2 separate regions of the Homo sapiens genome follow, and region 2 is linked to region 1. Evidence: fine-mapped expression QTL. A gene starts in region 1. The other region holds a variant in brackets. All regions are shown on one strand. Distances are between the middles of the regions.

Evidence for each region. PIP is the estimated chance that this variant, and not a neighbour inherited with it, causes the effect.
Region 2: its variant is fine-mapped to the expression of HNRNPAB in whole blood (TOPMed, PIP above 0.99).

Annotation. Positions count from the first base shown.
Region 1 is chr5:178,202,938-178,205,836 of GRCh38, reverse strand. It overlaps HNRNPAB (heterogeneous nuclear ribonucleoprotein A/B), which reads right to left and starts at 1,304. Exons shown (of 8, transcript NM_031266.3): 1 at 1,097-1,304; 2 at 791-1,022. The coding sequence starts at 999. RefSeq lists silencers at 331-740, 771-880, 901-1,120, 1,421-1,490.
Region 2 is chr5:178,253,105-178,256,003 of GRCh38, reverse strand. COL23A1 (collagen type XXIII alpha 1 chain) reads left to right here. Exons shown (of 29, transcript NM_173465.4): 16 at 978-1,055. Among named protein-coding and RNA genes, the nearest start is that of PHYKPL, 22 kb to the right of the region's middle. The variant G/A (reference allele first, on the strand shown) is at 1,354.

The DNA of each region.
Region 1 (2,899 bases):
ATGGTAGGGTGAGACACACGGCAACAAGTCTTGTAAGCAAGCTGTGATTTTGGAAAGGACTGGCCCTGGCAAAGTTCTCACGAAGTCTACAGCTACCCTTAGAGTCTGCAAGGAGCACCTTAGAAAGATGTTAAATCTCCACTACCCTCCAAATTGAACTCAACCAGGACCCTAACGAGGCTTAACAAGGCTCTGCAGCCCCAGCCTGTGAGAAGCAAAGAAGGGACCACCTCACCAGGGGTATGGGACCTAACCACTCATAACTGGAAATTCATGTGTTCTACAACCATGTAGCAAAGGGCCAGCGTCTCCACCAACTCCTGAGAACTCGTTTCAAGGAACTCGATGTTTCCGGGGACCAAGCCCGCCCAGGGTTCAGACCGTGACTCCGCCCCCGGGAGAGGCGGAGGAGGGAGGTCCGGGCCCCGGCTCGCGCCAACTCCGCCCACGCAGCCGCCGGCGCGGCCCAAGACGCCGCCGGGCCCCGGGTCCGAGCGCTTTCCCTCTTCCGGGCCATCCGCCCGCCCCTGCGCCGGCTCCGGCCCTGGCCCTGGCCCTGGCAGCGCGCGAGCGGCCCCGGGGCGGCGCCAAAGTCGACCCAACAAACTCCCGCAAACTCCAGCGCGAGTGGCAGCGCCAGGCCCGGCCCGCGAACGCAGCGGCGACAGTCCGCGGGCCGCACCAGCCCCGACCCGGGCCAGGCCGCCGCCCCTCCCCCCGCCGCGTGGCGCCAACAAAAGGCGGCCCCGGAACAAAGGCGGCGCCCCCGTCCGCCCGCGGCCGCACCTACCCCGCGTCCTCCTCGTTCTTGCTGGCGTTGATCTGGTCGCCCTCGGCGCCGTTCTGATTCCCGCTCGGGGGCGCCGCGGTCGCGCCTCCAGCCCCCGCCGCGGCGCCCGTGCCAGCCCCGGCCGGCGACTCGCCTTCGGGGACGGCCTCATGTCCGTTCTCGGTGGCGCCCGTCGTCTCCATGGGCTGCTCCTCGCCCGCTTCCGACATGCTAGGCCGAGGCGCGGCGGCTCCTGCAACCAGCGGCGACAGCGCGTCAGGCCGGCGCGGCTCCCGCCAGAGCTCCCGCCCGCCGGCCGCCGCTCACCTCGCCGCCGATGACGCCGCGGGGCCCGCTCGTCCCCACCCGCAGGGGAAGGCGCCGCAGGCTCGGCCGCACTCAAGCTCGCGCTGCTGAGGCCTCGCCCCAGTCAGCCCACGGAGCTGCTCCAACTGTGTCTCCTCCTCCTTGGCCGCCGCCGCACGGGAACCCACCGACCAACAGCCAAGCTCCGTCCCGCGCGGTGCCGCCGCCTGACAATGCCGACTCGTGGCGCCCTTTATAATGCCGGAGCCGGGTGCCACATCGCAACAAACTGCACACTCATTGGCTGCTCAAGTCCGTCACTCAACCTAGCTTCAGCGTCCCATTGGCCGCCACGGCGCGCGCGCTCTAGACCTGGGCGGGCTTTGTCCTCATTTTAGAACGCGCGCGAGTCCGGCCGCTACGGAGGGCTCCCGAAGCCGGGCGGGACGGCGCCGGGTCCAGGGCGGCGGGCAGCTACAGCACATCGGTGGGAGGGCCTAATCGGATTGTAAGCTCGTCGAGGCCGCTGGTCTCTTGCTCTCGAGGACTCCATCCCAGCATTGGCAGCCTCCGCCTCCCCATGTCCCAAAAGAGGAAACTGGGCTGGAGAAAGTTTCGCAGCCCAAGGACGCGTGGCTGGAAGTGGCAGAACCCGGGCTTCCGAGGTTGGGCGAGTGGGGTCCTCCAAGGCCCTCAGCACGGGTCGGAGGGATTGGGACTGAACCCGCCATCCCCCTGGACCTTGGTGCCCTCCAAGCCCCGCGCTCGCGCCCTGTCCGTCGCCTCCCCCAGAGATGCTCTGCAGGGACGATGAGACCTTGGTGTTCCCCGGTTCTCTGTCCCCTGGCACCACCTGAACGATTGACATCGCATTTGTACTTTTGTTTACTTAAATTTTTTCCTGTAAATCATTTGTCTTTCTTTTTCTTCCTTTTTATTATTTTTTTTTTTTTGATGGAGTCTTGCTCTTGTCGCCCAGACTGGAGTGCAATGGCGCGATCTCGGCTCACCGCAACCTCCGCCTCCCGGGTTCAAGCGATTCTCCTGTCTCAGCCTCCCGAGTAGCTGGGATTACAGGCATGCGCCACCACGCCCGGCTAATTTTTTTGTTTTTTTAGTAGAGACGGGGTTTCACCATGTTGGCCAGGATGGTCTCGATCTCCTGACCTCGTGATCCGCCCGCCTGGGCCTCCCAAAGTACTGGGATTACAGGCGTGAGCCACCGCGCCCGGCCTTTTTTTTTTTTTTTTTTTTTTTAAACAAATACGGAGGCCGGGCGCGGTGGCTCCCGCCTGTACTCCCAGCACTTTGGGAGGTCCAGGCGGGCGGATCACGAGGTCAGGAGATCGAGACCATCCTGGCGAACATGGTGAAACCCCGTCTCTACTAAAAATACAAAAAAATTAGCCGGGCGTGGTGGTGGGCGCCTGTAGTCCCAGTTACCGGGAGGCTGAGGCAGGAGAATGGCGTGAACCCGGGAGGCGGAGCTTGCAGTGAGCCGAGATCTCGCCACTGCACTCCAGCCTGGGCGACAGAGCGAGACATCGTCTCAAAAACAAAACAAAACAAATACACCACTCGTGAACTCACGAGGTAAAGGACAGGGTGGGGGCGTTGTTCTCTTCCTAATACACAAAACTCCTTTATATTATCTCCTTGACCACAAAATTTTAAAGGCCTCGGTAATCCCGTTATTCCTTTTAATCATATGGGTGGTGGGCCCCAAGGCAAGCAGGATTACAACCTCTGGAGCCTGCAGGTTACCAAATAGCAACCCAGAACACAAGGAACTAGCGTTTCCAGTGGATTCCTGCAGCCAGGACC
Region 2 (2,899 bases), 50 kb before region 1:
GCCTTGCCTTTTCCCCACCCCACAGGGAGGTTTGTCCCTGCCACCAGGAGCACAGCACCCCAGCCTGCCCCAGATCTTTTGTGACCAGCCCCTATCAACATACCTTACCTTTAGGGTGACGTCCGGGATCCTGGCCTCGGCTCTGTCTCCTCATGCTCCCAGAGGCTGGCTTCTTCCTCCAAAAAAAATGGATCTGAGCCCCCGCCTGGCTGTGCAGGTGGTGGGGAGCGGGAGGGGGTTGGATTAGGCAGCCAGTGAGCCAGGCAGTTCTGGGCAGGCTGTGACTGGGGACGGGGGAGGGCTGGCAAATGAGGCCCAAGCAAGGGTCTCCAGCCTGCACAAGGGATAGGCTCGGGTCTGGACCAAAGTGCTCCCCAGCCTTCACTGTACCCCAAGCAAAGAGCAGCCTGGGTGGGGAAGTGAGGTTCACAAGGGAAGGGCTGGCCAGCAGCCATGCGTGCACGTGTGAGTGTGCACAATGAGTGTGCAGCATATGGACATGGGCATGCTGACATGCACCTGTAACCAGGCGGGAATAGGCGTGTGGGTGCTTGGCGTGTGCAGCCGCTCCCAGAGGCTGGGAAATGGAGGCACGGGGGCCAGATCCAGCCTGCTCATGTCTTTGTGTTTTGGAGGGTTTGGGGCTTTTCTGTTTGTTGCCAACATTGAAAAATCTGAAGAGCGTCACATCAAAATCAGGCTTTCCATTTGCCCCCGAGAACTCAGGGGTCAGGCCTGAATGCCCACGTGAGGGCAATTACAGCCGCCCCTCAGACCAGGTGGAAACAGGTCTCTCAGCTGGCCACAGGGCCTGCCTCCCGTTCCCTCCATCCACCCTGGGGAGGGGCATGCGTGCAGCCTGGGTGACGAGGCTCTTCCATTGCTTTCTCTCTGGATGTGATGCAGGGACAGCTGCCACTTCACCTCCAACTCAGTGTAGCTCTTCCCTGAAATTCTTACTCTTCTTCCTGCCTCAGGGTGCCCCAGGCCTCAAGGGCGAGCAGGGAGACACAGTGGTGATCGACTATGATGGCAGGATCTTGGATGCCCTCAAGGTAGTGTTCCTGGTGGGACCAGGATGTGCCTTAGATACGATTTTTCCTTAGGGAATAATCACTCCCTTTGTGATTAATCCTGCACTTTTTTACACAAGGGACCAGAGGCAGCTTAGCACAAAGACCCCGGCTGTTACTAGGCACCCAATGTGGAAATCAGGGCTATGTTGAGACCCGCCTCAGAGAGCCCCTGTGAATGTGGCCCACGTGGCCCCGAGCTCCCTAGAGGCCAAGTCAAAAAGGGAAGCTCCCCACTCAGGGGCAGGAGGCAGAGTATTTCCTGGGGTCTGTTCCCACC[G/A]GTGTCTCCTGGGACCTTCCCAGAGGACACTGGCTGGAGGGCTAGGTCTCCTAATGATGCCATGGGGAGGATGAGAGTGGCAAGCTCTGCCCCCAGAGCCTTGGGAGATATGTGACCTCCGAGCCCAGTCGCTGGTAAACTTGGGACTTACCACCAGTGGAGAGAGGCACTGGGTGCCAGCAGCTCATGGGTACCCCAGAAGGAAAGTGGGTGAGGAAGGAGTGGTCACCAGAGACCAGACTGGGAAGGGGGCCCTGGCCCCACCTGAACATCATTTCCAGTTATCTCCCACAGGCTTTGGGGAAGTACAAGTTGGCAGTAACTGTGGCACCCACCCCCAGGCATGCATGGTGTGGCGTGGCGTGGCGTGGTGTGGCGTGGCATGGCCCAGACGGCAGGCACATGCATGATGTGTCCCAGGCTGACCTAGCCTTGTGGGAGAAGCCCTGTGAGTGCAGGGAGTTGGGAGATGGACTTCGTTTTGTTTTTGTTTTTGAGATGGAGATTCACTCTTGTCGCCCAGGCTGGGTGTGATCTCGGCTCACTGCAACCTCCTCCTCCCAGGTTCAAGCAATTCTCCTGCCTCAGCCTCCCAAGTAGCTGGGACTACAGGCATGCGCCACCACACCTGGCTAATTTTTATATTTTTAGTAGAGACGGGGTTTCACCATGTTGGCCGGGCTGGTCTCAAACTCCTGACCTCAAGTGATCCTGCCACCTCAGCCTCCCAAAGTGCTGGGATTATAGGCGTGAGCCACCACGCCCAGCCAGAGATGGACTTTGGATGCCAGACTGAGATGCCGACTCAGTTTGATGGGCAGCGGGCAGCCATAGTCCATGCAGGGCATGATGTTAAAAAAATAAAAACACGGCCGGGCGCGGCGGCTCCCGCCTGTGATCCCAGCACTTTGGGAGCCCGAGGCAGGTGGATCACGAGGTGAGGAGTTCGAGACCAGCATGGCCAACATAGTGAAACCGCGTCTCTCCTAAAAATACAAAAATTAGCCGGGCATGGTGGTGCGCGCCTGTAGTCTCAGCTACTCGGGAGGCTGAGGCAGGAGAATCACTTGAACCCGGGAGGCAGAGGTTGTGGTGAACTGAGATCGCACCTCTGCACTCCAGGCTGGGCAACAGAGGGAGACTCCATCTCAAAAATAAAAAAAAAATAAAAAATAAAAACATATTGGGGGAAGGCTAGCTAGGGAATGATATGGACAGTGAATGAAAGCAGGTGTTGGAGCAGGGAGCAGGGGGACCCCAGGCAGGGAGGTCCTGGGCCTGGGCCTGGGGGAGGGTAGATAAGATGGAGGCCAGGGACATCTCAATGGGACACCAACAAGAAGGGCACAGGATAGGGAGGTGGGAGGGGAGAGACCTAGAGCTTCCGGGGCAGGGGTGGGGCAGGGGCTGGGCAGGGTGCAGTTTTTCAGAAGGGAGGGGAGGAGTGTGGAGGCTGAGCAGGGGGCCAGCTGGGCCCTGGTGGCAGGTAGCCTGCAGAAAGCCTGGATCAGGACAGGAGCTTGAGAGTGGGGTCGGACCTGGAAAC